4 linked regions of the Homo sapiens genome follow. The protein of the gene in region 3 interacts with the protein of the main gene of each other region in a pairwise test. Each region holds a gene or a part of one and is shown on either strand. Other genes may lie near its edges. The genes, in order: BNIP3, SUSD3, CLEC7A and OPRM1.

Evidence for each region.
Region 1: the proteins of CLEC7A (region 3) and BNIP3 interact in binary tests that used the Homo sapiens proteins (3 or more experiments, as listed by UniProt).
Region 2: the proteins of CLEC7A (region 3) and SUSD3 interact in binary tests that used the Homo sapiens proteins (3 or more experiments, as listed by UniProt).
Region 4: the proteins of CLEC7A (region 3) and OPRM1 interact in binary tests that used the Homo sapiens proteins (3 or more experiments, as listed by UniProt).

The regions. Positions count from the first base shown.
Region 1 is NC_000010.11:131,967,171-131,971,938, forward strand, and holds the end of BNIP3 (BCL2/adenovirus E1B 19 kDa protein-interacting protein 3), read right to left. Parts: intron 4,364-4,768; exon of another isoform or gene 3,801-4,363; coding exon 3,694-3,800; exon of another isoform or gene 3,618-3,693; coding exon 3,468-3,617; exon of another isoform or gene 2,485-3,467; coding exon of another isoform or gene 2,457-2,484; intron 1,400-2,456; coding exon 1,354-1,399; 3' UTR 514-1,353; downstream 1-513. UniProt on the Homo sapiens protein: Apoptosis-inducing protein that can overcome BCL2 suppression. May play a role in repartitioning calcium between the two major intracellular calcium stores in association with BCL2.
Region 2 is NC_000009.12:93,053,781-93,061,704, reverse strand, and holds the start of SUSD3 (sushi domain-containing protein 3), read right to left. Parts: upstream 3,005-7,924; 5' UTR 2,963-3,004; coding exon 2,875-2,962; intron 1-2,874. UniProt on the Homo sapiens protein: May play a role in breast tumorigenesis by promoting estrogen-dependent cell proliferation, cell-cell interactions and migration.
Region 3 is NC_000012.12:10,127,176-10,134,965, forward strand, and holds the start of CLEC7A (C-type lectin domain family 7 member A), read right to left. Parts: upstream 3,025-7,790; 5' UTR 2,908-3,024; coding exon 2,805-2,907; intron 671-2,804; coding exon 572-670; intron 268-571; coding exon of another isoform or gene 236-267; exon of another isoform or gene 148-235; intron 1-147.
Region 4 is NC_000006.12:154,042,214-154,049,241, reverse strand, and holds part of OPRM1 (mu-type opioid receptor), read right to left. Parts: intron 1-7,028. UniProt on the Homo sapiens protein: Receptor for endogenous opioids such as beta-endorphin and endomorphin. Receptor for natural and synthetic opioids including morphine, heroin, DAMGO, fentanyl, etorphine, buprenorphin and methadone.

The sequences.
Region 1 (4,768 bases), on a different chromosome or scaffold from region 3:
GGCCATACAGGTGGTTTCACTCAGAGTTCAGCCATTGTCATCTGTGAGGGGGACACGTGGTTGGCTTTGTTGTGTGCTAACTTTGATGGTGACCAGGGGGTTCACTGAGCTCTGTAAGGTGCTGAAACTCCACTGATGTTTGTGATGAAAGACAAACAGCAAACATATTTGCTCTAAAACAAAAACGGAATTCCCTTGACCATCGTGCTTCGATGATCTCAGACTATTCTGAAGTTAAATTATATAAAGGAATTCTGATGTCATGCCATCCACATTCTCCAAATGTAAGACTGAGAGATGACTGCTTCCAAGGTAGCATCAACAAAGATTTTTACAAATGAAAACGTTAGATTTAACACCCGAATTAAGCGTGGAAAGGTGAAACATCAAGGCGGCAGGCAGCCTTTCTAAAAAGTTTGCTGTAGGAAAGATAATGTCAAAATAGGGACCAGTCCTGGTTTCATTAAGAAGCTATCATGACGTCTGATTTTAAACCATATGTAAATACAGTAATCTGAAGGATTTGGCAAAGATTTATTTTTTTTTCCATTTCCAGTTTTTTAAAGTAGACACAGATTTGCTTAGAATAAAGCTGATTTTAAAAGCACACAAAAGTTGAACACAAAGGAGAGGATTAAATTCACCAATGCAGAGTGATAAAGAGGAAAAGATACTGAGTAGGTGCCTTCAGCAGAAAACTGATCATCCAGGGTGATCACCTAATAATCGGAGACTTAATTCCTTATAATGCAAAAGCAAGAAGAGTTTAGTGTACGAACTGTACAGCTGAGTTTGTAGCTCTATCTTGGTTTCTGTTGATTATGAACAATTAGCATAGTTATATATAATCTTTCTTTAGTAGACAACCTGCATCCATTTAAATTAAATAATACTTTCTACAATAGTGTGATATATAAGGCCACAATATTTATTTTGGACAAACCCCTTAAAGTAGCGATTTTATTATCAATGTTATTCATTCTTTTGAAATATAAAGTACTTCAGCTGAATTAAGGTTGCAGATAATTTTTAAAATACAACACACATCATGACTAGTATATTAAAATTATTTATATTCAGATATTTATATCTAATATCAAATGAAAATTTACTACCAAATTTTCACAGTAGACATTAATCAGTCTGACATGCTTATTGATCCCATAGGTGTAATTATAGATCAACATGATTTTAGTGTCTATTCTTTTATTTTACTAAATTAGGAACGCAGCATTTACAGAACAAATAAACACAAGTGACGTGGCCACCCCAGGATCTAACAGCTCTTCAGTGAGCTATGTTGCAAGCTCAGAAGTAATCCACTAACGAACCAAGTCAGACTCCAGTTCTTCATCAAAAGGTGCTGGTGGAGGTTGTCAGACGCCTTCCAATATAGATCCTTCACAGAAAAATTATCAGTAGTTAATGTATCTTGTGATTCACAGGAGACTGTGTTACAGCTGAAACAGGGTAGCTCACTGTGGTTAGAGCTTATGCAAGGGGACTGGTGATTTTATACCCATTATAAAAATTTTGTAATGAATCTATCTGTGATCTTTTATCTAGTGTTTTATCAATATGTATTTTGTATTAATTAACTTAGAAAACATCAGATCGTATTCTTACATAGAAGGATCACCAAACCGAATGCTGTTTCCACACAGAAAGCTTCTGCTTTGTTCCAACTCAGTGCTGGGGGAAGTCACCTACCAGGGCAAGATGGTGTTGCTAGTTCATCACCACCAGCCTCACCAAAGCCAACTGCTTAAAAATGAAGCCCCTGCCCTCATGTGGTTTAAGTTTGGTAGTGGGAGAGATGTCCCAAACTAAAGATGCAGGAGTGTCAGAAAAGGCTTTTCGGCAATAGAGAGGCTCGCTCCAGCTGACCAGCGGGCATCACTCCCGGAGGGAGGAGGATGGGTCTCCAGGAAAGGGCAGAATCGGAAGCCTGGCTGGCCTGGCCTGTGGGCGGTGGTGTGGTGGGCACTGTGAGCGCAGACAGTGCTGCAGCAGCTTTCGGGGCAGATTTTATCGTGTGGTTCTGAAAAGCAGCTGAGGGGGTGTGGGTCGCCAGTGGCAGCATCAGGCTCTGAAAACCCGGGCAGGACGAAGGACAGTAGCTGGGAAGTAGTGGCTGCAGAAATCCATCCTGAAACGAAGGGCTTAAACCTTGTATTTAAAATGAGGATCCCGAGGCCTTGCCCCCAGAGTCTGCTTGACAGTTCTGGAAAAGGCTCCAGAAAGCAAACTGCCTGGTGATGCTGATGCAGTCTGTAGGTCTGACTCCCAAAAGCACCAGCAGAAATGAAGGTGACGGGTTATGGGGGGGACGTGAGAATGTGCCCAAGAGCTAGGAGAAAGCCACGCACACGGGAGGGCGAGGTGGAGACACGGGCAGCGCTCAGGTCCCGGCCCAGGAAACTCAGTGGCTTTTATCCCGTTTCCTTCAACCCCAGATGTGAGCCCTCTGGCCAACCTACCTAACCCACCTGCCCCCAGTGGCATTCCGGTCTTTCCAGTCTGTCCAACACACGGCAGCCACAGAACACTGTCTGCACGCCAGGACTAGAGCCCTCCTCCCCGCTGAGAGGCTGGGACCAGCCCGAGGAGGAGCCGTTTTGGCTTCCCGCTCTGGCTCTTCACCACCGCTGCGGCGAACGCTCTTCAGAACCCACAGCGGCGCCTGCCTGGTCTCTGTGTTTTCTGCAGGGTGAGTGAGTATAAGCAGCCAGGAAAGGCCAGGCGCGGTGGCTCACGCCTGTAATCCCAGCACTTTGGAGGCCGAGGTGAGCCATCCCTTGAGTTCGAGATCAGCCTGGGCAACGTGGCGAAGCCCCGTCTCTATTAAAAATACAAAAATTAGCCAGGCCTGGTGGTGGGCACCTGTAATCCCAGCTACCCAGGAGGCTGAGGCAGGAGAGTCGCTTGAACCCAGGAGGCAGAGGCTGCAGTGAGCCGAGATCACGCCCCTGCACTCAGCCTGGGCAACAAGAGCGAAACTCAAGCCAGTAAAGTCGGAGACTGCATTGGTTCCTTCATTGCTGAGAGTTACTAGAACAACAGTCCTGTCTGGAGGAAGTACAGCAGGTAACTGAGACCCTCCACCTACAGCAGAGCTGGGTGCATTCCCGCCACAGTACTACACAGAAATGAGACTGCTTTCACCTACACACAGGACAAAGAGGTCAGACCTAAGAAGCCCTGCTTTGACTCCGTTTATATTCAGTGAGCAACAGGCAGACTCGTCAGGCCAGACAGCAGCACCACAGGGCGCCTGTGCTGGGGCCTTTGGGGGCTGCAGGCTGGTGGTTTCTGGACCTGAACAGTGACTACGTGGGTGTTTGTGAAAATGCACCAAGCTGTAACTGATGATCTGGACTTCAGGAAACAGGTTACGAATAAATCACTGCAACCCAGAATCGCCCCACGACATGCCATGACAGGAGTCACACAGTCACATCACCTACCCCAATCCGATGGCCAGCAAATGAGAGAGCAGCAGAGATGGAAGGAAAACTTTCAGAAATTCTGCAGAGAATATGCCCCCTTTCTTCATGACGCTCGTGTTCCTCATGCTGAGGGTGGCCGTGCGCTTCGGGTGTTTAAAGAGGAACTCCCTGAGGCGGGAAGAAACGTGTCAGCTGATGTGTCCTCTGTCAAGGGGTGCCCCCGTGACACTGAGAACACACTCACTTGGGGGGAATATTTTCCGGCCGACTTGACCAATCCCATATCCAATCTGAGTTTTTCTTCAAGATGCTTTCAACTTCTTTCCTTCTTTCAATATCATCTTCCTCAGACTAAGATAAAGTCAATGTTAAAGGCAGATCAGTGTACCACACGTGACACGGGAAAGCACCCAGCTCCCACCCGAGCTTCAGATCCGCAGGCTCAATTCAAGAGCCCAGAGGCACATGTCAGTGCCTCGGACCGTGGTCCAAGGGGAGTCCTGGGGCTGGGGGCCTTCCCCGGGCCGCGCCGCACTCCCGGCTCACAGCACGCTCGCCGCCTCCAGGGACAGATCACCTCTGGGGGAGCCCCACTCAGGGCGTAAATACATTTGGTTCACTGTGAGATTCTGGGGGTACTGACAGCGGCAAACACTGTCCTAGGGAAGTCACGTGACATGAGGGCAAAGATGGTGACGGCAGCACTGGTTATAAGAAAAGAAAATGAAAACAGCCGAAAACGGCTCAAAACAGGGACATGACGAAGGAAGGGACACTGTATAGTGAGCAGGTTTACAAGATGCTTCCGGGATAAGCAGGAGGGAAAAGGCAGAAATGTCCACATAACCACAGCTGCGGCCAAATCCTCAGAATTATATAACAGCACGAAACATTAAAGAGGATTTTAAATCTGAGAGTCTAAGTGTTTTTCTCTACTTTTTTGCATTTTCAAAATTCTGTACCTGAACATCTAATTCCTTTTAAAACTAGGGGAAGTTTTGTGTAAAACAGTGAAAACGGCAAGACCCTGTCTCAAAAAAAAAGAAATAAAATTGAAAATACTCAAGAATATAGCTCCCCAAACCCACCAAACATCTGGGTACACCCAAGCTGGGTACAGCCCCAAGTGCCCAGGAGCAGGCCGCACGCCCTGGATGCACCCACACACCCACAGCCAGGGCTCCTGGGGCTCCCGAAATCATGCTGCCCCTCGGAGTGGGGCCAGGGGATGTCCCTGAGAAAGCCTGGGTAACAGGGACTCCTTGTTTCCTTGGTGAAGAAAGCCTTGAGGGAAGCGCTAGCACGGAAGGGTCAGCTAC
Region 2 (7,924 bases), on a different chromosome or scaffold from region 3:
AGACCCTGGCAGTGGGGACAGGCCTGGCCCCAACACTACATGTGGGTGTCCCACAGCCCTGGCTGTGTGTCTTCAGGTAAGTCACTTGCCCTCTCTGAGCCCATCTCCACATGGAGGGTGAGCACAGGCTTCAGAGCCACTTCTGCCTTCCATCTCCAGGCTGAGCAGCAGGGTGGCCTCAGGATGTGGAAAGCACACAATCCTCCATAAAAGAGCTGGGCTAATTCCAAATGAGGAACATGTACTCCCACATCCCTGGTGGAAAACCGAGGGTCCGGGAACCTATGCCTTCTACCAGCAGCTCTTTCGATGCCAATGGGTGGCAGGAGGCCATAGCCAGGCATCACAGGGTGTGTCTGCCTTGCTTTGATTTACACATGCATTCACGGGGTCTCAGTTTCTCCTCTGTAAAATGGACACAGTCCAGTTCTGGGGCAGGAGTTCAGGGGTGAAGCCAAGAAGGCACCAGCAGAGCATGCCTCCTGCTACCCCCTCTCCAGGCCCTTCCTCCAAGGCCCTTCCACGGATGCCAGGGGGGTTACCTACAGCCACTGGAACCCTGCTTTCCTGGACAATCTCCCAGATCAGGGAGTGCTGGGGCTGACCTGGGAGCAGGGCCAGGGGCCAGTCATACAACAAACATGATAAACTCCTACTCTGAGCTAGTCTCCCCCGCGCCCTGCCCTTCTCCCAGGGCGCTCATGGGAGATGAGGGAAGACCACTTCCTGCCTCTCAGGAAGATCAGTCTGTCCACACTACTGTGCTCTTCATATCTACTCTAGGAAAACCAGTGGTAATGGCCCCATTTTAAAGATGGTGGGAAAAACACACATCCCCGTGCTATGTTTTTGGTTTTTGTTTTGTTTTGAGACAGAATCTCGCTCTGTTGCCCAGGGTGGAGTGCAGTGAGGTGATCACAGCTCACTGTAGCCTCGAACTCTGGACGAAAGCAATCCTTCCACCTTTCAGCCTCCCGAATAGCTGGGACTACAGGCGCATGCCACCATGCTCAGCTAATTTTTTTTTTGCATTTTTTGTAGATACGGGGTCTTGCTATGTTACCCAGGTTGGTTTCGAGCTCCTGGACTCAAGCAATCCGCCCACCTCAGCCTCCCAAAGTGTGGGATTAGAGGCATGAGCCACCACTCCTGGTCAGTGGTGTTTTAGTGTCAAATCCTCTCCAAAGGCTCCCAACCCCCCAGCCTCTAACTTCACAGCACATTTCACAGAGCAAGAAACTGAGGTCACATGGCAGGGGAGTGATGGAGTCCAGATGATGGCATCATCCCTGCACCAGAACAAGTACCCTCCCTGGGCTCCACTGGGCCTGTCCACAAGCTTGGGGGCAGGTATACAGTGGGGAAACTGGGGCACATGGGGAAACTGAGGCACAGAGGTACAGCGACTCACCCCAGGTCACAGGGGGGATCCTAACCCAAAACTCCAACAAGGGGGCCAGTGCCTGGGAAGTGGTCATGGTGGTCAGAGGCAGAGCCAGGGCCAGGCAGGATGAACAAGAGCACAGGGTGCCAGACTAAGCTCCATTCCCAGCACAAATTCCAAGGCAAACAGCCTTTTGTATGCAAATATGCCAGAGCCTCCAGATACTCCCTGGCCTTGGGCTGACCTTGGGCAAGTCAAGGCTATCCAAAGGGCACTGGCACCCACGCCCCCAGGCTGTTGTGCCAGTAGAAGGGGCTCCTCAGGTAGTACCAGGCCCTGGGCAGGCCTTGCTCAAACACAGGAGCAAAAGTGCTCATCACCCCAACACCAAATTAGGGACTCTGGACATTAGGCTGCCAGAGTCAAACTAAATAAACCAAATCCACCAGCGCCAGGAACAAGTCTCAGCGCCCACTTTGCTGAGCTGCGGACCTCTGCTCGGTGAATTAGCTCCCTGAGCCGCAGTTTCCCCAACTGTGAGAGGAAGCCATTCTCCTGCCACCTTCCTGCCAGTTCCCTGGGGCTGCAGGCTGACAGTGTGACCTGGTCCAGCCCACCCCACTCCGGGCCTCAGCTTCCTCCTGCGCAGAGCCTTAGCCCCGCAACGCCTGAGACGCCCAGAACCCTCAGGCCTAACGTTCGTGGGCAGTGGCCGCGGAAGTAAGCTTTTGGGATATCTGAGACCCAGAGTTCCGGTTTGGTTCCGTTTCTAAAAGGGTTAGACTTTAGAATCATTCAAGGAGCAAGGCCAGCATTCGAACCCCGGAGCCTTGGGCACGGGAGCAGACAACTCTTTAAGCACATTCTTGAATTCAAACACTTAAAAGTAAAATAAAAAGCAGCTTCTCTTCCTTCCAAAGGCCTCTGAGCCTCCTCCGAGACAGCCGAGGCGATCCCAAGCCTGGCTACAGGGTGACCTCGGACAGCCACTCCCCTCTCGCAGGCTCAGTTTCTCCATCTGTAAAGTGGAGCTGCGCTGGTCACCAAGGAATCGTGAAGATGACACCTCCCTCAGGCGCAGAGAGGGCTCCCGGCTCCCCCCTCCCGCCCCCGCGCCACCCGCCCGCCAGGTGAGGCCGGTTTCGACTTCCCCGGGAGGGGCGCGGAGGGGCCCGGAGCCTGCGGCGTGGAGAGGCTTGGCCGGCCGCGCTGTCCGCAGACGCCCGGGACCAAGGCGCTGCGGCCACTCGGGAACGGGCGCGCGGGCTGCTGCGTGCAGCCGCCTGGTTTCGAACTGCTCGCTGCCAGGCTTCGGCTCCGCTAGGGCGCCTGCTGGGCCGGCGGAGGGTCGAGGAGGTTCGTCCTCGGGGCAGATCGTTGCTGTGGCCCCCACCCACGGCTGTGCGGCCCCGCGACCCCCTCCCCTCGGCTTTCCCGTCTGTGAAATGGGCGCAGAGCCCCGCACGCGGCCACTCGGCCCCAGCCCTCACCTGTGCGGTTCCCTGGGGCAGGCGTGGTGACCCCGGCCCGCCCCCGGGGCCTCGCCTTGCCACGGAGGGTGGCGGCCGCCCAGCGCATCCTGCGCGCTCCGAGGCGCTTGGCGGGGTCTGCCAGGGGAGTGAGCCCGGCTTGTGGGGGCGGGGCCTGGGCCTGGGCCTGGGTGAGGGGCGGGGAGGCCCCGCCCTCCACGCCCGCCCAGGGGCGGTTCCATGCAACTTACAGACCACGCCCACACGTTGGACTGGGGCCGAGGTCCGGCCGGGGGCTGTGGGCGGGGGCCCTTGGGGAGACCAAATACCCAGCGGGCCAAGGCAGCCGGCTGAGCGGAAAGTGTTGCTACTCCGGGGCGTTGCACGCGTGGCTACCTCTGCCCAACACCCTTCCCCCATCCCTTCCTGTTCTCACCTTCACTCCTAGTGTGGTTTTTCCATGTGCTTCTGTGTTTTTATTTTTTGAGCAGGATTTTGCCTTCTCAGGGTGCCGGATTCGGCCGGTACCAAAGGGCAAACAGCAAAACGCCTCCCCGGCCCGCCCCTCCCGTAACCCACTCACCCCCAGAGTCCTGTGTGGACCCAGCCTTCTTTCCCTGTCTCTCACTGGGCCAGGCCGTCTGAGGCACACTGAGGTCTGGGTGCCCTTGTTGTCTTCGGTTCTCACTGAGGGGCCCCCGGCTGGGGGAAACAGGATGGAAAGCCCTGGGGTCTGTCTGCAGGGCCCACCACACCTGGAGGCCTCCCTTCTCCTGGCTTCCCCTTCCCACCCAGCTCCACTTGCAGCAGGCCCAGAGCTGTGATCCGGGCTCTTTCTCTCCCTCTGACCCCACCCAACCCAGGCTTAGCCCCCTGCCCAGGCAGCCACCAAAGGGTTGGGTGTGGTGTCAGGCCTCAGACATCCTGGATCTTGGGCTGCTTGTGGGAGACCACCTGAGCCATGCCTATTCCTGTGGAGCTGGCAAAGGCAATCCTGGCAGAGGGAACAGCAGGTGCAAAGGCCCTGGTTTGGCAATGTGTGGCAGCAGAAGCCCAGTGCGGCTGGCTTAGGCATGCCTCCAGGAGCGCAGAAGGTGGCCCAGGTGGGCCAGGCTGGCTCTAGAGTGCCTGGCAGGTGACCGTGAAGAGTGTGGATGTTCAGGTGGACCATGAAGCAGGGTTCCAGCAGGGCAGCCCCTCCCCGTCTCTGCTTTCCGAGCCCTCCAAAGCTGAGGTTCAGTGTGAAACGTGAGGGGCCCTCCCCCTTTCGCCATCAGGGTTGGCGTCACCCCTGATATGTTCTTCCCACTTGGACTTGTGGGTCACACACGATGGCTTACTTCAATCTCCTTTATTCAAAATCAAGCATGTGTATTCTTTCTGCCATGTCGGGAAGGGCAGGGCCATCAGCAGTGCCCACTCCAGACCACACTCTGGGACCCCAGAATGTCTTGCCAAGTGGCCCCTAGCCCACCTCTCAGGCCTGTGTGGTCCCTTCCCTGGTTTTGCCCACCATGCACCACCAGGCAGAAGGCCACTGCCTGTAGGTGCATGGACAGGGCTGGGAGGGAGGTCTGGGGCAGCCCTCCAATAGCTGGGTGGAGCTAGGTGGGGATGGAAAACACCAGGCTGCCTGCAGCTCCCTAAGCCACCACGCTGTGACCCAGGCCTTCAGGAGCCTTCAAATGCTAAACACCTGGCCATTTAGGAAGTGTGTTTCCTAGAGCTGTGTAACATAGTACCCCAGACTGGGTGCCTGAGAACAACAGAAATTTATTGTCTTATGGTTCAGGAGGCCAGAAGTCTGAGATCAGGGTGTCGGCAGGCCTGCAGTCCCTCCAAAAACTCCAGGAGAACAGCCTTCCTTGTATCATCCAGCTTCTGGCAGTTCCTTGGCCGGTGGCAACTTAACTCCTGTCTACACATGGTGCTCTCCCTGTGTCTCTCTGTGTTCAAATCTCTCTTCTAAGGACACCAGTCATATTAGATTAGAGCCCACCGTAATGTCCTCATCTTAACTTAAGACCCTATAAAGAGTCTGTAAAGACCGGCCAGGCTCAGTGGCTCACGCCTGTAATCCCAGCACATTGGGAGGCAGAGGCAGGTGGATCATAAGGTCAGGAGTTTGCGACCAGCCTGGCCAACATGGTGAAACCCTGTCTCTACTAAAAATACAAAAATTAGCTGGGCATGGTGGCGCGTGCCTGTAGTCCCAGTTACTTGGGAAGCTGAGGCAGGAGAATCACTTGAACCCGGGAGGCGGAGGTTGTGGTGAGCTGAGATTGTGCCACTGCACTCCAGCCTGGGCAACAGAGCAAGACACCATCTCAAGAAAAAAAAAAAAAAAAAGAAGAGTCTGTAAAGACCTTGTCTCCAAATAAGGTCATATTTGGAGGTACTGAGGGTTAGGACTTAAACATATAGATTTTGGGGGACACAGTTCAGCCCCTGACAGGTGGGATCAAGGAGGAAAGAGCATGTTTTTCTGAGCAGTCTGTCGCTTGGTTGGGTTGTGGACATTCAGGCTTGTGGCGCTGGGCCTCCATTTGTACTGTTAGGGGACCTGGAGGTGGCCTAAGGACCTCTGTCATGTCGTTTCCACAGGGAACTGTATGCCTTGCTGTGGCTCAGAACACCCATTTGCTGCCAAAAGGCCATCTTCAGGAGCTATGGGAGGGATCTGAGGCTGGTTCTGGAGGTGGGCCTGTCACCTATTTGAACACTGATCAGGGCCATCTTGTCCACCTTTTCCCAGGCCCTTGGAATGGTTTGCTCCTAGAAAGCCCAGCTATTCTAGCCATGCACGTGGGCGAAACTGAGGCATGTGAAAAGAACGGCACTGGCCCACTAGGGACAACCGCCTGGGGTGCCCCCTTCCATGGTGAGAACCATGGCTCTCTGACAGGCTTCCCTGATCCCTGGGGCAGGGGTGGGCACCCTTGCACTGAGTCTTCGTGTTCTCATCTGAGGGGTGGACATTGTCCTGCCACCCTCTCAAGGCAAGTGAGAGACTGTGATGTGCTCAGGATGGAGTGGTGGCCTCTAAGCTGGACTGTGAAGGCCCGTCAGCTTTTGAGCTTGGCCCACCCGCTCAGCTGTCCTAGTTGCCTGGTTTCCCAGACTCTCCAAGTCTAGGCACAAACTGGGAGCAGTGCTTAGGCTCTGCCTGCTTGGGTGTGTCTCCTTGCCTTCCTCACCCTCCTTCTCCATGGAGCCCTCCCTGATGGCACTCCCTGTCAGAGCCATTTCGTGCTGCCTGTCCTTAAGGCCTGCTCAGCCTGTGTCACGTCTCTGAAATGAAGAGGACATGTGGCCAGGTGTGGAGCTATGGACATGTGGCCGGATATGGCCGAGAGGATCACTTGAGGTCAGACACACCTGTAATCCCAGCTACTTGGGAGGCCGAGGCACGAGAATTGCTTGAACCTAGGAGGCGGAGGTTGCAGTGATCTGAGATTGCACCACTGCACTCCAGCCTGGGTGACAAAGGGAAACTGTGTCTCAAAAAAAAAAAAAAAAAAAAAAAAAACGCAAAACATATGGGCTTCCCTGCTGGAGGAGGCAGGGGAGGAGGCTAGGAGGAACGGATGGGCTGCTGGCTGCTGGTGAGGCAGGCCGGGAGAAGGAAGCAGAGTCAGGCACAGCCTGAGGAACTGACCAAAGCCACAGCCTCTTCCCAGCTCCATTTGCAACTGGGAGCACACAGTGCACTGTCAGTGGACACTTGTTGGATGGAACCTGGGAGGCAGGGGAGGCCTGCCAGCCCTGGGGCTCAGTGTTCCACTCTGTAACATGGGGGTCTTGTGCGCTGCCAGAGGTTTCCAGAGGAAGGTGAGGGTCTGGCTTGGGAGTTTCCTCTTTCCTCAGACCTTAGCTGAGGTGTTGCCACCCCCAGGAAGCCTTCCTCAACCCTTGATTTGCCTGACTCAGCACCCATGGGCCATGGTGGCCTGGGAGGGGACCCATGCAGAAGTCTGGTGGTGGCAGAGTTCTTGGCTTGGTGAGTTTTTCTAAAATTAGATAATAATTGTGGAAATCTAAAACAGTTTGTTTTGCCTTTTTTTTTTTTTTTTGACAAAGTCTTGCTCTGTCACCCAGGCTGGATTGCAGTGGCATGAGTTCAGCTCACTGCAACCTCCACCTCCTGGGTACATGCAATTCTCCTGCCTCAGACTTCCAAGTAGCTGGGATTACAGGCATGCACCACCACGCCCAGTTAATTTTTGTATTTTTAGTAGAAACAGGGTTTCACCATGTTGGTCAGAGTGGTCTTGAGCTCCTGACCTCAGGTGATGCACCCTCCCTGGCCTCTCAAAGTGCTGGGATTACAAGTGTGAGCCACTGCGCCCAGCCTGTTTTGCTTTATTCTTGATTTTAGTTTTTACTCAATAGAAAAATGAGATTTTTGTTCTGAAAACCTCTCACAATAGACCACGTCCAGAAAGTTCTTTTGCAAAAGGTAAGAGTCAGGGAAGCATTGGTGGCCTCATGGGTGTCCTCTCTTTTTAAAAACTGTATTACCTTTTAAAAACTAAAAGCAAAAAAAGAAAAAAAAAAAGTAACCTGACCTTGAAGCTCTAGCAGGCCAGATGTTTGCAGAGAAAACAATTTTCCCAAAAATGTTTTCTGCTGGGCCATCTGGAGCCCTCAACACCCACCACTTATCCTCCTAAAGCAAGGCAAGAGCCCTGTCCCCACTGTGCAGAGCGACAAAGGCCCCTCCCCGGGGGTACTCCCCTGCTGGGGCCTGAGCTGTGACCACCAGACTGTCCTACCTGGCTGCAGCCTGCACAAGCAGATCAGTCAGCCTGGGTGACATGACATCGAGCTGCCGCCCTCAGGTTCAGAAATGGTGATGCAGAGACACAAAGCAAGGCGCCCAGAGGGCAGAAGGAATGACAGATTCATGGAACAGCTACTACCAAACACCTACTGCATGCCAGGCCAGTTTAGAAGCTGGGATACAGCTGGGCCTAGGAGGGACAAACTCTGGCCAGGGGCTGCTCCCCCCATGCTCATCCTGCACACCAAGGCCTTTACCTGGCCACCACTGGGCTGGCAGATAGCAGGT
Region 3 (7,790 bases):
TGTGATATAAAATGTAAAAAAAATATTAATCCATTACAAAATATCGACTTAAGACCAAGTGCCTCAGGAAATTTCTGGTGTATTCAAAGGTGTTTATATTAAAGATCGGAAATAATTTCCTTAAATAATGTGAATCATAAAAATAGCTTAATGTCCATTTAGTGAATTTATTTCATTAGGAAGACAGCACCATATTGTACTTTCTTCTTCAGCTCCGCTTGTTTTCTTCATTAATTTATCCTTTGAATTCCACAGCTTTGAAACCAGCTATGTAAGGGAGGTAGGAGAGCAATGTAGTTAAGAGTATGAGTTTTTTAGACAGATCACCCAAATTTCTAATCATGGTCCCACCACTAACTAGCTTATAACCCTGGAAAGGTAAAATAACCTCTCAGTCTCTCACACCCTTTATAAGTGAAATGGGCATTAACAGCACCAACCCAATACAGATAAAACCAGATTATATACAAATTAAAGTAGATTATGCATGTCAAGCCCTTAAAAGAGTGCCTGGCACATAATAATTGCTTACTAAATTGTCTGTTGTTAATCTCCTCCACCAAATACTCACCCATGGTACCCAGGACCACAGCTATCACCAGTATTACCAAGCATAGGATTCCCAAAATTACAGCAATGAGGCGCCAAGGAGGAGATGCAGCACACGATCCTGAGGAGCCAGAGGGGGCAGAAATGGAATAAAGAAAGAGAATGACGGATGGTGGGGCAGTTTAATTCTACAGTTCATCAAAAATCTGGCCTTGCACGGTGGCTCACACCTGTAATCCCAGAAGGGAGACTGAGGTAGGAGGATTGCTTGAGGCCAGAAGCTCAAGACCAGCCTGGGCAACACAGGGAGACCCTGTCCCTACCAAAAAAAAAAAAGAAAAACAAAGAAAGAAAAAAAATTTAATTAGCTGGGCATTGTGGTGAGCTCCCGTAGTCCCAGCTACTCTGGAGGCTGTGGCAGGAGGATCACTTGAGCCTAGGAATTCCAGAGCAGCATAGGCAAAAAAGTGATACCCTGTTAAAACACACACACACACACACACACACACACACACACACACACCACCAACAACAACAACAAAAAATACTGGCAAATTTTTAAGTGAATTATTAATCACTGCCTAGGTTACCTGGTCACCTAGGATTTGCTGTGCTTCTCCACCAGTAAGGATACCTTCTTCTTCAATTGCTGGAATTGTAATTTCGGCACATTGGCTTGATAACTGTATGCTCCTAATTTCAGTTCCACATTGACATCTACAGGTCTTGACATTAGTAGGATCCCTGAAATCCCACTGATTCTTAGAGGAAATAGCTTAATGTTGGGGAGATAGCACTGATTACTAAGGGTAATTTTCCCTTTTCATATGTTTGTTGCATGACCCTGGGCAAATTACTCCCTTTGTTGTTTTTTATTCCTCTTTGTGAAACTGGGGTAATAATATCTCAAAGGATTATTGCGGGAATTAAACGAGCTAACACATATAAAAGCACCTTGTTTAGAGACTGCTAGCACATGATAGGTGTGTTGTTGCAGGATACCGTTTGCCTACACATATGCATAAACATGCGCATGTCTCCCTACCTCTTGCCTCATCCACTTTTTCCACGCTTCCTCAATAGGTTGCCCAAGAAAAGAATTACATCAGTGCTGAGAGGAAAATATTTGTGCAGTGTGAATAACCAGAAAGCAGAAGAAAGCAAACTCTGGTGTCAAAACCGACAAATGATCTCTCTCTCTCAAAGATAATAGGGAACTAATTTTGTATGAACATTGCCATAACCAGAATGTATTTCTGCTTTCCACTGTGACTAAGCTGTCAGGACATTTCATAGAATTGTCACATAGGAGAATCGTAGAGTAGGCTAAATCACCCATTCTATGAATACAGAGATCCTCCAATGCCCTTCTTTCTATTTCATTTCATTTACACTTTGTTTAAGACTCATGTCCTGCTGGTGGGATGTTTTTATCTACCATATGTTCATATATTTTCCATCACTGGTATACCAATAATTGTTTTTTGTTTAAAAACAATTTAAATTAATCTCTTACCACAAAAAAAAAATGTTGTTCATATATATACTTCTTTAAGTTTCCTGGCCTCCATTCGATAATCTAGCCTTTCTATCAAACAAGCAACAAGTCACTCATACAGAAATCCTTTATCTTTGTGTATTATCCCACTTATTACCAATTCCTCACTGATGAAATGTCTATATCTATAGAAAAGAGAAATTCTATTTTCTGCCATCAGACATAATTAATTTAAACACTAATAATTGGTCACTGAATAATTTTCATGAAAAAAGGTTTAGGGTGCATTCAATTTATCTTCAGTGACATCTGAAGCCTTTAAAAGTATATCCATAAAAATATACACATCACGAGGCTCTCAAATTTTCTCCCCTTATATCTTTTTGTTTTGTTTTTATTTTTATTTTTTTTCAGAGATGGAGTCTTGCTCTGCCACCCAGGCTGGAGTGCATTGGCATGATCTTGGCTCACTGCAACCTCCACCTCCCAGGTTCAAGTGATTCTCCTGCCTCAGCCTCCCAAGTACCTGGAACTACAGGCGTGCACCACCATGCCCGGCTAATTTTTGTATTTTTAGTAGAGACAGAGTTTCACCACGTTAGCCAAGCTGGCCTCGAACTCCTGACCTCAGTCAATCCACCCGCCTCGGCCTCCCAAAGTGCTGGGATTACAGGTGTGAGCCACCATGCCTAGCCTCCCCTTATATCTTTTCAAACGGGAGAGCTAAAGGCACACATTAGAAAAAACATATATATACCTTTCTCTGAAACAACAGCTATCCTGGTATTGCTTTGAGAGTCGAAGTGTAATTGAGTATATCCATCTTCATCCAAATTTTCTAAATCAGGATGATATTCCATTGTTCTTGAGAGCCCCTGAATAGATATAGCATTTGGGAGCTCTTTTCTTTCTGCTCCTGAGATGACTGTCTGTGGACAAAAGAGAATCTCTGAGTCAAATCATGTGGGCTAGGTACTTACCGGAGTTTAACAAATTAAGCTTAAGTAGTTCAACCAGATATTCAAGAGCAGGAAATGAAACTATGCTGTGGTAATTTTCCATTTGTACCTTTAGATCCTGTTTCTGAGACTGCTGACTCAGGAAAACTAAAAGGCAGCATAGCAGATGAGTCTTTGTTTCAGACCAAATGTAAGAAAAATGCATACATTAATGTCTTATGCTGCCTTCATTACTCTCACAACTAAGTCTGACATTAATTAATTTAACCGATGCAAACTATTTCAGTTTTGGTGCTCCAAGTTTACCATAACTTTGTTCATGTATTTATTCATGTATTTTTTAAATTACATAAACAGGTACTGGATGCCCACCTTTTCAATTGGTAGGAGCTTACAATACAAGGAAAAATGATACCTATGAAGAAACTCATTGCTTAATAAAGGAAATATATAGATAGGTAAATGAGGGATGGCATGAGGAGATGCATTGTTGTAACAACAGACAGAGAAAACAAATCTCTTTGGGAATTATCAGATATTAACACAAAATAACATTTATTGAACAATTACTATGAGCTAAGTACCACATGTTGTACATATTTTCTTGTTCAATCTCACTTTTCCAAGTCTATATAGTAGGCATTATTATTTCTATTTTCAAATGAAAAAATGAGACAGAAAATTTAGCCTCTTTCTCAGGTTTAAGAAGCTAATTTTAAAAATTTAGAGCAAGGAATCAAATCAAAGCTGACTCTTGCTGCAAAACTCGTGGTCTTTTCTGTTACGCTACACTGCCTCTTTCATCATTCCATACACTTATATTGCAAGGAACAGCTTATGGAAGGTGTTGGGACTGAAATATTATGTTAGATGTTTGATTTTTTTTCCCTCTCTTCCAGTTTCCATAGTAATGATCAAATCAAAGAAATATAGAAAACACCTAACATTGCTGGAAACTGAAGAGGTGTTCAACTCATTTATCCGACCTTGAAGCCAGTAGAGTGCAGGAGACATCTGAGTGTTGTCAAGGATCAACAAATCTGGATACTAGTTAATGTGGTGAGGACAGGTTTTATTCAGTAATACTATTGCAACAGGAACCAGTGCAGCATTAACTGAACTCAACTTCCCCAAAAGTAAAGCTGATGACATTTTAAAGTGGAGTTTGCTAAGGAAAAGATACTGAGTGGTGTTAAGGAAAGTTAATGTGACTAGACTCTCTGGATTTGTTAATTGGCCCTTATCCAGAGGACAGAGAAACTTTGCCTATCTATATGACAGAAGGACATGGTGATAGTTGAAGTGAAGCACCCAGCTAAGTTGGTCCTTATGCTGCATCTGAAAGAAAGAGCAAGATTTATCTCCCTGAATGTTTGCATTTCAAAGAAACAGCTCCCAAGTCCTTGAAGAAACAGTTCTGTGTGGTAGATTTGCTTCTCAAAGGGCAGAGAAAGAATTTAACTGTAAGATTTATTTTTCTTTTCTTTCTTTTTTTTTTTTTAGACGAAATTTCGCTCTTGTTGCCCAGGCTGGTGTGCAAATGGCACGATCTCGGCTCACCACAACCTCCGCCTCCCGGGTTCAAGCGATTCTCCTGCCTCAGCCTCCTGAGTAAGCTGGGATTACAGGCATGTGCCACCACGCCAGGCTAATTTTGTATTTTTAGTAGAGACAGCATTTCTCCATGTTGGTCAGGCTGGTCTTGAACCCCTGACCTCTGGTGATCCGCCTGCCTCGGCCTCCCAAAGTGCTGGGATTACAGGCGTGAGCCACTGCACCTGGCCTAACTGTAAGATTTCTAAAGTAACTGCTCTAAAAGGAATTCAGGAGCCTATCTGTTACCAAGTTTTTTGTTGTTGTTGTTGTTTTGAGACAGAGTCTCGCTCTGTTGCCCACGCTGGAGTGCAGTGGCGCGATTTCGGCTCACTGCAAGCTCTGCCTCCTGGGTTCACGCCATTCTCCTGCCTCAGCCTCCCAAGTAGCTGGGACTACAGGCGCCCGCCACCATGCCTGGCTAATTTTTTGTATTTTTAGTAGAGACAGGGTTTCATCGTGTTAACCAGAATGGTCTCGATCTCCTGACCTCGTGATCCGCCCGCCTCGGCCTCCCAAGGTGCTGGGATTACACGCATGAGCCACCACACCTGGCCTGTTAACAAGTTTTAACTGGAACAAAAAGTAAATTCTCCTAGCAGCATTGGGCTTCCTCAGGCTGGCCTTTTAAGTAGTGCTGAATCATCCTATGGACCTTGCCTTAGGCTACTAGAAGGCGTGCTAGAGTTTGCCAAGTCTCTAGTGCAGAGATTTGGGAGGAGTTGTTATATGATGAGGGCTCTGCAGTTCTGACAGTCTAACACCTATCAAAATGGAAGAGAGCTCAAGAGAGTACATAAATGAGCTTCCCGCCTTACTTAAGCTGCCACAAAAGTTTTACTAAGTTTTTGTAGACATGTTGCAAAGTGGTAATGTGGATCTTAATCTCAACATTCATCAGTGTTTCAGTCCTATAATGCAGTGCTTGGAAAGCAGCGTATGAGGTTCAGGACATGCAACCCCAAAATATGGATTCTTGGCATTTGAGAAAACAGCAGAATCAGGAAATTCACTCTCACACCTTTCCCCGTCTTTCTGCCCTGAAGCAGATCATAAGACCCTTATTTTAGAAGTATTGTTTCCTAGAGGAAAGAAACTTCCTTATCTTTGAAGATACAGAGATGCCAAGAAGAATCTGAACAAATTAGTCTTGCTAAGCTCCCTCCAGTTTATTAGCATTAGATCATACCCTCCTTGTCCAACGTAGGGGAGAAAAAGTAGTATCTTTTCCTTGCCCATCACCAGGTTCGTGACTGAGACCCCTATAACAAAAGACAGATTAACAAAACAAAAGCATGTAAATGTTATACGACAAGAGAGCCTTCTGAAATGAAGACGCAGGGAAAACTGAGTATTTCTACGGACAGTTATGCAGAAGTATGACTGGAGAACAAAAGGGTATAATCTAATGGTAATAAGCTGAGTAGAACTTAACAAGGCCTGTTTGTTCAGGTAACTTCTATTAAATAAATTTGGATGCTATTCTCTTGTTGATCTATGTTTTATTGTAGATGCCGTGAACCTAGCAATGAGTGAGGAAAAGGAATCTTTCACCCCTACAAAGGGATACCATGGAATTTCTCAAACAGTGAATACATTGGCTCCAGGAAAAAGGGTCGACCTCTTAAATAGAAATAGAGAACTAGAGAACAATAATGAGGGGAGTACCTTGCAGTCAGTAATAAGAAGCTGTCTTTACTATCAAATCAGACCTCCAGTGGGAGAGTTTTTCCCTATAGTGACTTTGACTGTCACCCTGTGTTTAATCACAATCCTATGAAAACAGTTAACTCTCTAAGTGGTCAAAGAAATTTTTCAATAAACATAAACTTTAGTCTAATTCTCATTATTCTCCTTTTTTGTCTCTTTGTCTAAAATAAAGCAATTAAACATTAATTATGCAAATCATTGACAAACTAGAAAAACAATACCCTTCGTATTTCAAGACAGTGGGAGAGATAGGCTGGGTATTCAGAGAAAAATACCCCTCATTAAATGTTAATGCAAGAAACAGGTGGAAGGCCGAGCATGGTGGCTCAGGCCTGTAATTCCTACACTTTGGGAGGCTGAGGCAGGTGGATCACCTGAGGTCAGCAGTTTGAGATCAGTCTGGCAAACATGATGGAACCCCATCTCTACTAAAAATATAAAAAATTAGCTGGGTGGGGTGGCAGGTGCCTTTAATCCCAGCTATTTAGGAGGCTGAGACAGGAGAATCACTTGAACCCAGGAGGTGGAAGTTGTAGTGAGCCAAGATCGTGCCACTGCACCCCAACCTGGGCAACAACAGTGAAACTCCATCTAAAAAAAAAAAAAAAAAAAAAGGAAAGAAACAGGTGGAAACAAACCAACCTAACAAAAGAAAAGACAAAAAACAAACCAGTTATCTAACTTACATTTTCAGTGAAGTTTGTTGAAAACTTTCATCTATAAAACAAGTGGGTCATCCAAGAAAAATGAGCAATCTGGCCGGGTGCAATGGCTCATGCCTGTAATCCCAGCACTTTGGGAGGCAGAGACAGGCAGATCACCTGAGGTCAGGAGTTCGAGACCAGCCTGACAAACATGGAGAAACCTCGTCTCTACTAAAAATACAAAATTAGCCAGGCGTGGAGGCGCATGCCTGTAATCTCAGCCACTTGGGAGGCTGAGGCAGGAGAATTGCTTGAACCCAGGAGGCAGAGGCTTCAGTGAGCCAAGAGTAAGCCAAGATCGTGCCACTGCACTCCAGCCTGGGCAACAAGAGCAAAAACTCTGTCAAAAAAAAAAAAAAAGAAAAGAAAGAAAGAGAAAAAAGAAAAATGAGCAATCTGAGAAGAGTTCTTAGAAGTGGAAAACACATTTTATAAACTAAAATTGTAATTAATGAAACCCAGAGGTAGATTGAATATTACATCAATAAAATAGCTGAAAGAACCGAATTCATAATAGCTGAGTCTCAGGAATGGAAAACAAAACATTGTATGTTCTCACTTATAAGTGAGAGCTAAGCTATGAAAATACAAAGACATAGGAATGATACAATGGATTTTGGGGACTTGGAGGGAAGGGCGGGAGGTGGGTGAGAGATAAAAGATTACACATTGGGTACAGTGTACACTGCTCAGGTGATGGGTGCAACAAAAATATAAGAAATCACCACTAAAAAACTTATCCATGTAACCAAACACCACCTGCTCCCCAAAACCTGT
Region 4 (7,028 bases), on a different chromosome or scaffold from region 3:
GTGTGGAAGTTCTGCTTAGTGTCCCTAAGCCAAGAAGACTGTGATGTGGCTTATGAGGAAAGTACTTGTGTTACAGAAGCTTTGTTCAGGCATGATTTATAGTGCTGTTAACCATGAGTTCAACGTTAGTGAATCAGCTATATATTAAATAAAGCGTCTTTAAACAGAAACACACATAAAACAAGGTTACGAATGCATTAGCTGATGAAAATTTTATAATCAGAGGCTCACAGGAACCTGCCCTATATATCCCCTAGAAGCAAAGCTTCAGTACTCACGAATTCTGTAGTCATAATGACTTTATGGACCATAACTATCATGAATAATGGGAATTGACTATATTAACTTTTTATGTTTTTACTTCTTCAAATTTTACTTTCTGAGTTTTTATTATAAGAGTAACCATATATTCCCTTTTTAAAGTTTGTAAACTCAGGAATATATGCATATATAGACATGTATGTGTTTGTATTTGAATTTATGATTTGCTAATATGTATCTATGGTACAGATCACTTTTCATGACTCAAGTGATAAAAGCTAAATATGCATGAACAAAGTGAATTGAGAAAATTATTTAAATTAGATTTTATACTTGAATAATTTGAGGTACATCTGAATTGCTAATAGCTTAGAATTGTACAGTATTTTGAAGATATTCAGTTCTGTTGGTCAACTTTGAATGTTGGATTTCTCACCTAAACACAAAGAGATAGATATAGTTCAAGTCTTTAAGTTTTATCAAGTGACATTTTATAAGGCCATGAGAAAATGCATAATTTTTTTTTAACAATGGTAGCATGTATTTTGGGTTATATTGCAGGGAAATTGGTTGTAGGAGTACTTTGGAGAGGCTGTAAGAAAGGATGGATTTAAGTTGATACTTGAAGAACAAGAAACATTTTGATAGGAAAAGAATGAGAGATACGTTACAGGAAAACAGAGAGAAAGAAAAATAAAGGAAACAGTATAGAAGAGATAAACATGAAGCATATTGGAAGATAGTGAAGGAATCAGGTTGGCCTAATTTACGTAAACGTTAATTTAAATCACACTAATGGTTTTCAGTGAATATGAGTGGTTAATATTTGAATCACTTAGGACACCTACTGTAAACTGAATGTGTTCCCCTCAAATTCACATGTTGAAAACCTATTCCCCAGTGTGATGGTATTTGGAGGTGGGGCCTTTGGGAGGTGATTAGGTCATGAGAGCAGAGCCATTATGAACACTATTAATGCCCTTATGAAAGAGGCCCTAGAGAGCTTCCTTGCCTCTTTGCCTTGTGGAGAAATGGGGAGAAGTTAGTTGTCTCTGCAAGAAGGTCCTCAGCAAATGCAGAATCTGCTGGTGCTTTCATCATGAACTCCTCAAGCCTCCAGCACTGTAAGAGTAAATTTCTGTAGTTTGTAAGCCACCCAGGCTATGGTACTTTGTTATAGCAGCCTGAACACACGAAGACACCTACTTACATACAGTGCATAAGCTAACATATTATTTAAAACAAACAAAAAACAAACAAACAAAAATTGTACTTAACAACATTTTTGCCTGGACAGACACATATCCAGAACAGAATGATCTCTCTCTCATTTAAACCCATCACACACTTCATCTTATGGGAAAGCCCTATCCATTGGTTTACGAAAGTTCACTTGATTAGATTTGGTGGAACCTCTTTGCATCAGATTTGGAATACAACATCCAGGATAGGACTAATACCTAAAGGCAAATATTAAAACCATCTCCTAAAAATTAAACAGAGAATGAGAGACAGAGAGAGAGAGAGAGAGAGAGAGAGAGAATTTTGCCCACGCTCCACCTTTGCCAGTCACGCTTTTAGGTTATGCGTTCCTAACCCTTAAGGAGGCAGCACATACTCTGACTCACTGTTTTTCATTCCTTGTCTTTCCCCATCTTGCACCCAGGCCCTCAGGTACACAAAACAGCAGGACCTTTTGCTTGGGCCTCCCAGTGCAGTAAGAAGATGACTTTTCCCTCTCCTTCCTGCATTTCTGCTCAAACATGTGATGCTCACCTGGTGGCTTCTGTGGGGTGGGGGTGGGGGGAATGAAACATGATGGGGTTGCACCTTTTCCCACTTAACCACTTGCCTGTACTCTCGAAGCATATGAATAAAGGCTTGACTGTAACTTTCTGTTTCCCTTATTGTCCTAATCATAAACACCACACCTGGCAGTTCAGAGCACACTCACTCTTTCTCCCTTTGACAGAACCTATTTGAGCTTATATAGAATCCAAAGGGCTGTGATGGAATGGCAACCACGATTGTTTAGTTTTGTGGATGATTCCTCTTTTCCTCCAGATTGTATTGCTGGGAAAAACATGCTCTTAATAGTCATTGAAGTTGCCATAGGACATTTTAGTACTAGAAAGCGTTTAAGATTTTTTTAGTCCAATTCGCACCTTTTTACAGATAAGGAGAGTGAGGCGCAGAGTGCCTTGAAGTCGAGCCACAACTGACACTTGGGGCCCTGAGCCAGGGCAAGGTTTCTCTTCCTTGCTGTTCTTCCTTTCTAAATTTGTATCTGAGAAATTGATGGGGAAAGAAAAAAAGTTACCTGAGGCAAGAAAGGATGGGTAAAGAAAGGAGTTGCTTGGTAAGCTCAGTATATGATGCTTGTTGTATATGACGTTTCCTGCATTTGATGCTTCAGCTCACTTTTGAAGACTGAAATTTTCTTGAGCTCAATTAATCACAAGATACTCTTAACGTTACTATATAACATGAAATTAATGGAAAAGGGAGTGGCAGGATTTTTTGTTTGTTTGTTTTCTTATACCCTCAGATAATTTGCCAGAAGGCACAGGAGGCTTTATTTCCTTTACATGGCACACACAATTCTGCTCCTATTATCCTGAGCTCAAGAAGAAGTAAACTGAACACTGGACATGACTGGTGCCCACTCTCTCTCCATTCAGCCAAACCTACCCAAAAAAGCCTTTCCTAAATCCCAAGGCAGGAACAAAAATGGAAGGAAAAGCTTAGCTTCTGAACTCTCTTGGTAGTTCTAACTGGTGCTGCCTATCAGAATTTTTCTTACGAGTTTTTGATAGTTAAGAGAAAACCTTTATTGATAGGTCTGTAAGAGCTCTATTTATTAAACAGATTTTACTGTGCTAACGTATAGTCACCAATTATAAAATAACAGGAAGGATATTCAGCAGAGTGTGAGATACGACCTTGTGTGAAGGTGAACCATTTTGAAAAGTGGTTGCTTGGCAAGGAGTGGGAAACTAGAAGAGTAAACCAGGGAAGAGGAAAACGAGGCATGTTTTTGAGACGGTCACAATGTGGGCGGGGCCTTCTGATGTGCCTTGTAGTTGGCACCTCAGAATTGTACACCTCAGGAGAGAGGGGAGCAAGGGCAGCATTTTTCCACAGGCTTCCATTTCCTGGTCAAGGGAACTTTCCTGAACTTCCAAATAGTGCCTTTGTGAGTGCCAGGCTGATTCCTATGGAGGGCAATTACTCCAGTAGAGAAGCCCTAGGGCAGAAAGTAAGTGATTTAGATGCAGCCAAGGTGAAGTGTTACTCAGTTATGTCTGGAAACTGACTGCCATATCAACGGCTGAGGTAGAAGGCGAGGTGAAGGACATGAGGTGGGCACGAGAAGGATATGAAACAACGTGAAAGCCATTGCTTTCAAATTTTGCCTGGTGGAGCCCTAGAAATTCTATGGTGGTCCCTTGGGGACAGCACTGGTGGGTGGCATGGGGGTGCAAGGTGAGCAGTGCTCTTGGTCTCAACATGTGGTTACATCTGGACAGTTGTTCTGTGATCTGTTTTATATATTGGGTCCCAAGTTCTTGAAATAAGTGTCTACATCTAAAAACAAGTTTGAAGACTGCTGTCACAGATAATTATTTCAGTCAGATAAACATTAAACTTAGTGAGGACTAAAGACTTGGAATTCTTGTATTTTAAAATGACATGCACCATTTAGTCTTGGTATTTACCCCTAGTACTTTTTTTTTTAATTTATTTTTTTTGTTTGAGTCGGAGTCCCACTGTGTTGCACAGGCTGGAGTGCAGTGGTGCGATCTCGGCTCGCTGCAGCCTTTGCCTCTGGGTACAAGAAATTCTTGTGCCTCAGCCTCCCCAGTAGTTGGGATTACAAGCATGCGCCACCCAGTCTGGCTAATTTTTTTTATTTTTAGTAGACACAGCATTTCACCATGTTGCCCAGACTGGTCTCAAACTCCTGACCTCAGGTGATCCACCTGCCTCAGCCTCCCAAAGCGCTGGCATTGTAAGTAAGAGCTACAGTGCCTGACCACCACTAGTACATTTTTAAATCTCATATAGTTGTATGTTATTTCTCAAAATGAGCTTATTTTTTCTTGCATCTGACCTTAAAATATCTGTTTCAACTACTGCCTTAAACGGAATCCTAGGAGAAATAATATTTTCAACTTTTATATGTAAGAGATCCTATTAGATGTTCAAAATCTCAAAGTAAATATTGTCAGCATTTATTATTTGAATACCTACAGACACCAATTAATTATTTGTATTTTCTTCTTAGCAGTAGAGAAATTATGCTTTATTTAAATTTATTAACCGATTTATTTTTTTTGCAGCAGTAGCTGAGGTTTTTTTCTGAGTATTATACCTAAATATTAATTAAAACAATTAGCTTAGAAAAATGCTTGCAAATAAATTTTTACAAATAATTTTTAACACATTTAAAAAAAAATAAGATCAGTTAAAAGTACTCAGAAGAGTTAATGGCCCGAATGTTTGTTTGTTTTCTTTTATGTTTGTTGGTTTTATTTGACATCTATTTTCTAGCATTGGCCTACTGGAACTATAACAACTTGGAGTAATTAGGGAAATTATGTGTTTAAGCTTAAACATATGATATGGTACCAATTATAAAAAGTTATGAGAACATACAAAAACATTTACTATGTATGTGTGTTTCCATATGTTTACTATATATATATGTGTTTCCATATGTAGTAAATGTTTAAAAACATGCATGTGAATAACTCACCACTAAATTTATGATAGTGGTAGTCTCAGTGACAGGAGGGTATTAGGAGCAGAGAAGAGACTTCAACTGTTTCAGTCTGTCTATCTCTCTCTCTCTCTCTCTATCTATCTATCCATCCATCCTTTAAGAGAAGAATTGTTCTGTAATTATATATTTTTTATCTTTGGAGATGTTTCATAAAATATCAGATAGGTCATTCTTTCAAGAAAGAAAAGAGAGAGAGAAGAATATAGGAAACTCGTTGATTGGTAATGTCATGCAAATGACAAAGACACAGCTTACAACCAAGGAAAGGAAAAGCAATTTAGTGTGTTTAGAAGACACAGAAGAAGAGTTGTTCTCCTCTGAATTAGTTTCTATATGGAAAATAGCACTTAAAGTTCAAATTGTAATAGGTACCAGGAGCTCTCCCTTACTAAGTGAAAGGCATGCAATTAAGTTAGTATTTTTTAATGTAAGCCATTAAATTGAGAACTGAATTTTATTTAGTGTTTTTCACTTTAAATCCATCCTCTAATTAGGATATTTTGTGGGTTTTAGAAAAGTGAATTTTATTAATATTTGAGTAAATAAACTATTATCTTTTTATTTTATGAAAATTACTAATGATCATATTTAGTGACATGCATTCAAATTGATTCAAATATGTATGTGTGTGTGTGAATTTATATATATATATATATACACACACACACATATATATCCTTATATTAGATAAAACATTATTGTTCACTAATTTGTAGCTACCTGAATCTAGATTAAGTTTAAAAGCTTATACTTCTGTTTCAATCAAGTATAACTGATCATTTTTAAATTTAAACCTGAATCAAATATTTAGTATATAGAACAAGTATAAGCTCACAGGACTTTTTCTAAAATCAGAAATACTTGTTAGGAAGGAGAAATGACAATAACATCTTGCACGTATTTAAATGCTCTTCTCTGATAATTAGTTATATTGAGAATTTATCTAACCACATTAAGAAATAATCTTAAAAATGAAGGTACTATTACTTGGCACTCTTCATTGGAAATTTACTGGAAGGATGGTTTACGCAGCCCACAGAAATCTCAAAGTTTCTAGCCCTCCACTTTTCAACAGTGTCTGTACATACCATGTTCATAGCTACATGAACAAACCTTGGAAAAAGAATTTCCCAACATAAACACATCTGGGATTATATTAGTTTTTGCAGTTATGGGTAATTCTATAGTCTGGTTCAGTTATTAAATATTTTCCCAAAAGTGAAACATCTCTGGTGGCTGTTACTTTTTGTTTTGATTTTTTTTCTTTACAGTTCTTGACAATGAAATACTATCATCCCATTTTAAGTGATTGCTACTGTTTGTAGTATTTTCATCACATTTTCTAAAATCTTTGTGATAATTTTCATAAGGTTATTCTCCAAGCATTATTTTTCTTTAAAACCAAAAAAGCTTTCAGGTGATGGTTACTGATAACATTTTTATCACTTAACATCTGGACTTAAAATCTTTAGAACATATTACAGTTTCTCCTTTCCTCCCTTGTATTCCTTAGAGTAGCCCTGTTTAAGAATCTCATTTAAGTTATACTACTTAATAATGTTGTTGATGAGGGGATGATGATGATGGTGTTACAAACAGAACCAAAGAGTTAATCACAGCGTCCATGTTAGCAGTTATTTTTGTTGTTGTTGTTGCCATAGTCATCTGAGCCTCATGATTCACTCAATGTACTAAAACATTTTAATAAATATTACCTTAATATAATCAGAAAACTGCAACTACTTGATCATTCAATAGCATTTGTTGAATTTTAAATAGGGAAGGAAGTGAACATTTCTCCTCAATACTTAATAGATGCAACATTATATCCAGCATTTTAGCAAGGACAATACATCCCTGAACTGATCATTTTGTAGTTTAAACACCGCAGCCTGGAGACAGTCAGTTAAATGTTCTCAGCTAAATAGACATACTTGCTTCAGTCCCCAGATGCTTTCCCTGTCGCTTCATCTGTCACTAA